Linked DNA regions of Homo sapiens: region 2 is linked to region 1. A link means that fine-mapping ties the variant in region 1 to the expression of a gene that starts in the linked region. Tissue or cell type: monocytes. Region 1 holds a variant in brackets; the other region holds the start of a gene. All regions are shown on one strand. Distances are between the middles of the regions.

What was found. PIP is the estimated chance that this variant, and not a neighbour inherited with it, causes the effect.
Region 2: it holds the start of SPHK1, and the variant in region 1 is fine-mapped to the expression of SPHK1 in monocytes (TOPMed, PIP 0.91).

Annotation. Positions count from the first base shown.
Region 1 is chr17:76,410,429-76,413,263 of GRCh38, reverse strand. All of the region lies in intron 1 of UBE2O (ubiquitin conjugating enzyme E2 O), which reads left to right. Among named protein-coding and RNA genes, the nearest start is that of SPHK1, 27 kb to the right of the region's middle. The variant A/G (reference allele first, on the strand shown) is at 1,300.
Region 2 is chr17:76,383,398-76,385,897 of GRCh38, reverse strand. SPHK1 (sphingosine kinase 1) reads right to left here and starts at 1,289. Exons shown (of 6, transcript NM_001142601.2): 1 at 1,092-1,289; 2 at 244-447. The coding sequence starts at 253. RefSeq lists silencers at 922-1,621, 2,202-2,341, 2,362-2,500.

The sequences.
Region 1 (2,835 bases):
CATTAACATTGTGGGATGGGGGTGAATGTCACTGGTCCTTACTTCCTCCACCCCATCCCTACGTCAGATTCTTGCAAAATCTTTAAAGACCATATGTGTACCTTATTTTATGTTTGTATTCTTGTCTAGCCTTGAATATATAGGAATCACTAAAAAAGTGGGATCCTAGGCCTCAGCAAGGTTTCCTGCTTCCACCCCCGCAAAACTGAGTTGGGTTTTTTTGTTTCATTTTGTTTTGTTTTGTTTTTGAGACAGAGTCTTGCCCTGTCTTCCAGTCACCTAGGCTGGAGTGCAATGGCGCAATCTCGGCTCACTGCAACCTCCGCCTCCCGGGTTCAAACGATTCTCCTGCCTCAGCCTCCCAAGTAGCTGGGATTACAGGTGCCCACCACCACGCCCAGGTAATTTTTGTATTTTTAATAGAGACGGGGTTTCACCGTGTTGGCCAGGCTGGTCTCGAACTCCTGACCTTGTGATCTGTCTGCCTCAGCCTTCCAAAGCACTGGGATTACAGGCTTGAGCCACTGCGCCCGGCCGAGTTGGTTTTCTTAGTTTGAAAAATATATATGCACTAACACACGTGACCCCTGTCTTGAACTATAGTGGCGCCACACCTGTGCTGGCAGTGGAGTGGGCACATGGCAGCGTGGAGCTAGACCCTTCAAGCTCAGGGACAACCAAAGAGCCAGAGAGGCCTCAGCTGAGACAGGAGGGGAGGGAGAGAGGCTGGTTAGGAGCCCCTGAGGTCCCCAGCACAATTGGAAGCTCTGTCTCTCCCACACCCCCAGTTGGCCACTGTCAAGTTCACTCTTTTTCTATACACCTAGGACTCAGACCCAGCTCAGACAATAAGAGATGGGGGGTCAGGGAGGGGGTGGAGGAGTGGCGTTTCTCAGATTGTTTTTACTCTTTGGGAAGTATCAAGTTGGAATTTAGAAGTTTCCAGTGCTGGTCTAACCTCATCTTCCTTTTAGGAATCTGGTCTTTGAGTCCTGGCCTAGGTCAACAGCTTCAGTCCTGTGTGTGGCTGCTGGACCTTCAGAGGTCTAGGGTCTGGCTTAGTCCTACAAAGGGAAAGCCTCACTCTTTGAACACAAATCCAGGAGCCATTGCAAGCTGACCTGTTGTCTACACACTCACCAGGGACCTAGTGTGGGGCTGGTCGTCCGCTTGTCCTTGAGGTCCCAGGCTGTCTGTGAAGCCTCAGCGGGCACTTGGCATGATGCTGGACCTTTTCTGTTTGAGACTACTGCAAGCTGTGAGCTGAAAACCTAGTATTGGGGCCAGGCACAGTGGCTC[A/G]CGCCTGTAATCCCAGCACTTTGGGAGGCTGAGGCAAGAGGATCACTTGAGCTCAGGAGTTCAAGAACAGCCTGGGCAACATGGTAAAACCCAGTCTCTACAAAAAAAATAAAATTAGCCGGGTGGTGGCATGTGCCTGTAGTCCCAGCTACTCAGGAGGCTGAGGCAGAAGGATTACTTGAGCCCAGGTGGTTGAGGCTGCAGTGAACCCTGCTTGCGCCACTGCCCTCCAACCTGGGTGGCAGAGTGAGACCCTGTCTCAAGAAAAAAAAGAAAAAATCTGGTATTGATTACATCACTAACCTCCAGAAGCGGTGGGGTTGCCTTTTACCCCGGGATTAAAAGAGAGCACCCATGTCTCGTCCTGTTTGGCCTTCCCTGGTGTCTGACACCTGGAGATGACTGTGGCATGGCTGGTGGCTTCCAGCCTTGAGCTGTAAGTGCTTAGGCTCCATGCAGGCCCCTGCTTTTGGACTTCTTCCAGCTCCCCTTTTTGAACTGGGAGCCCATTTAGTGTTCAAATGCTGGTGCTAGTGGCCAGGCACAAAGCCGCCTTTTCCCTTGGGGCAAGGGCATGGCCTCCAGGAGCAGCCCAGCCTTTAGGAGCCATCCGCTCCTACAGGGACATGACAATCAAAATCACTTGAAAGTAGCTTCTTGGCCAGGTGGAGCGGCTCACACCTGTAATCCCAACACTTTGGTGGCAGGAGGATTGCTTCAGCCCAGGAATTTGAGACCAGCCTGGGTAACATGGCAAAACCCTTTCTCTACAAAAAATTACAAAAATTAGCCAAGCATGGTGGCGTACGCCTGTAGTCCCAGCTATTCAGGAGACAGGTGGGAGTATTACCTGGAAGATGGAGCCATGATTGCACTCCAGCCTGGGCGACAGAGTGAAACTCTGTTCTTCCCACCCACCCCCTCCCCCACCACACCAAAAAAAAGTAGCTTCTTTATTTAGCGTCTTTGTATTTTCAACATGTTGATCAGCCTCAGTTTGTGTTTTCTATTCCTGGATCACTTTATACAGTGAATTTGGATTCCACCTGGTCAGTCAAGGTCAGTGTTATGAATGAGAGTCTGGACCAGGAGCTGCAGGACGAGCTAGTTGCTTTTGCTGTGTTATTGGGGGTCAGCCTCAAGACTGCAGCTCAGAGAAGCAGCATGTGCCTTGGGAGTCAGGCAGCCGTGGAGGGAGAGTGCTCCTGGCAGGAGAGGCCCCCGGTGAGCTTCCCCGGCTCCTGAATGCCTGCTCTGAGTGGCCCCCAGCATAGCTTCGGGGAGCTCAAATGGGGCACAACAGAAGTGCCCAGCCTCCTGCCACGTTGCCCTCTGCCCTGGCATTGTCCCTGACCCCTCACTTACCATTTGATTGCTTTCCTACTTGATGTATCCAGAGGCTGGTCCGCAGACCCACCTTCTCTGCCATTGTTCGGGTCTCAGCACCTGCGTCTCCAGAGCACCTTCAGGGCTTCTCAGCTGTGGCACTGCGGGTGCGTTGGCCACGCCATTCTTCGTTGAGGGATGTCCTGTGCG
Region 2 (2,500 bases), 27 kb after region 1:
TGCCCGAAACACCCCGGTAATTGACCCTGGCCAGAGGAGCGGCCTTTGCTGGGAGACCTGGGGTGGGGACGCGGCGCCCCTGCCACCCCCTTCCTTGGCTCAGATTCGGCCGGCTTCTGGCCTCGTGAGGGATAATGTTTCTCCCGATCGTCCACAGCCCCTTTCGTCCAGCTGGGCGTTCCATCATTCCTGGCGAGGAACAGGAATCCCCCTACAGCCCTTCCCAGCAGGAACCCCACAAACCTGGATCCATAACCTCGACCCGCGGCTCCCGCTGCCAGGGGGTCCCTGGCGCTGTGGGGGCGCTGCCCGTGGCGGCGGCTCCTGCCTTCAGCTCCTTATCGGTGCTGCCCAGGCGGGCGTCGCAGGGCCGGCTGTGGGGCTCGCCTTCCCCGCCCGGAGCCGTGGCTGCAGGAGCACCGGCGTCATTCCCTGCGGCGGCTGGACCTGAGGGAGAGAAGACAGCGCTGGCGGAGTCCGGGGCCGCAGCTGCCAGAGGTGGGGAGCGCCCGACTAAATCCCGGGACCACGCGCGGGGAGCCAGGTTCCCGGGAAGTCCAGAGAGCTGAGGTCCGGTGCCTCCGAGGGCGCCCCCGCCGTGTGACTAAGCCTACAATCCCTGAGAAGGGCGCCTGCTCCGGGGCTTTCTCCCTGGGGCTTGGGGTTCGGTTCCGGCCCGACGGATGAGTCAGAGCCCCGTGGCTCCCTCCGACGGACTAGCTCCTCACCCCTCGGGGCTGCCAGGGGGAGGGGAGTCCAGCTGCGTAAAAATCCCAGAACTTGAGCGGACATTGCTGGGCACGAAGTTCTGGGAGAGGATCCCTGCCCCAGCCATCCAGGTTGCCGTGTCCCCTGCCCGGAGCTCCAGAGCGGTGGGAGCCGCGGCGCGCGCTTCTCAGGGCCCCGCTCCGTTGCGACGCGCGCGGCGCTCGTGGGAGCCGCTCCCGGGTCGCGCCAAAGCCAAGCCCGAACCGGGCCACCAGCTGCCGCCTGCTCTCGCCCAAGCGACAAGTGGCCCAGTTCCCGGGGCCCCGCGAGGGCGGGCCGCACAGGAGCCACGAGCGGCGCGAAGGCAGGGTGGGCGGCCCTACCCAGTCGGTCCGGTTTGCTGGGGAGGCGCCACCGCCGTTCCCTACAGTGGCCTGGGGCGGAACGCAGCTCGTCCCAAGCTCAGCCCACGTCTGAGGGACTGGAGCGCCCCGCTGGAGCGGACTCCCCGGCCTCGCTCCCTCCGGCCTCAAACTTTTCGCTCAACTTCGCAGCCGGCGCCGCGGAGCGGGGAGGGCACTGAGCCTCGGCGCCGGCCTGGCTCCGCCCCGCGCTCCCGGGGGTGGAACCTGAGCCCGGCGCGGCCTCGGCCTCTGCCCGCCTCCGGCCTCAGCGCGCCGCCTCCGGCACGGCCCGCGCCCACGGCCGGGCCACGAGCTGGTTCCCGCCCGGGTCCTAGGAAGCGGCAAGCGCGCCCCCGCCGCTCGTCCTAGGCGTCTGGCTAGAAGGCGGCGCCGCGACCTGGCCGGGTGAGCTGAGGCGGCAGGCCGCGAGGCGCGGAGTCCCGGGCCCGGCCGCGAGCGCAGTGTCTGGGGCGCGCGAAAGCGACCGCGCAGCGCAGACGGAGGCGCGGGCTCCGCGCGAACTCGTGTCGGAGCGAGCGCCGGGCGCGCGCGGCTCCGCTCTCCCGGGGGACCCTTGGTTTCACCTCGACGCCACGACCTCGCCCCCGCGGGTGCTGTCGGCGCCGGGATGCAGCGCCCCTTTTGCGCGCTCTGCCCTAGCCCACCCGAAATTCGAGGCCCGCACGCCACCCGGGGCGCCTCTCCAGGCCGGGGCGTCTCGCCCGCCGCCCACCAGCTTCCCTCTTTCTTCCTCCCCCGCGCTCCCACGGAGGTTATTTTTAACTTCCCGACGCTGCAGCTGGGCTACCGAGCCTGAGGCCGCCTAGCGCGCTGTCCCGGGTAGAGCAGGCGACAGGCCGGGGGCTCCGAGCCGGAGAGGAGGCTTGACAGTGTAGATGGGCCTGGGGGCCCCCGTCGGGATTGGAAAGCCAAGCATGTGGTACGTGCCCCCCGCCCCCTCTGGCTCAGCGTGAAGAAGGGGCGCCGGAAACGCGCTCAGAAGTTGTCACTTCTTTGGAGGCCAGTAGGGACGCGTTTGTCAGTGTGTTTGTGATACACTTATCGCGGCAAGCCACAGAACGTGTCCGCGAGCACCTCGAGTTAGATCCCTGGGGGGTTACGGCGGAGACGGAGGAAGAAGTTGCCAAGGCCCATTGGTGACCTGCCCAGGTAGGGCCAGAGTTAGGAGAAACCAAGCCCCTGCGGGAGGCTGCGGGGCTCGCGCGCCCCCGCCGGCCCCACCCGCCCCCACACACCTCTCTCATCGCTTCTTAAAGTCGAGAAGAGGCAGGTCCAGGAGGAGCACGCAGCCAATTAGCCGGGCGGCGCCCTGAACTCCGGCACGCCTCCGCGGTGTCTTCTCTTCCGGAGGACCCAGGCAGCTCGGC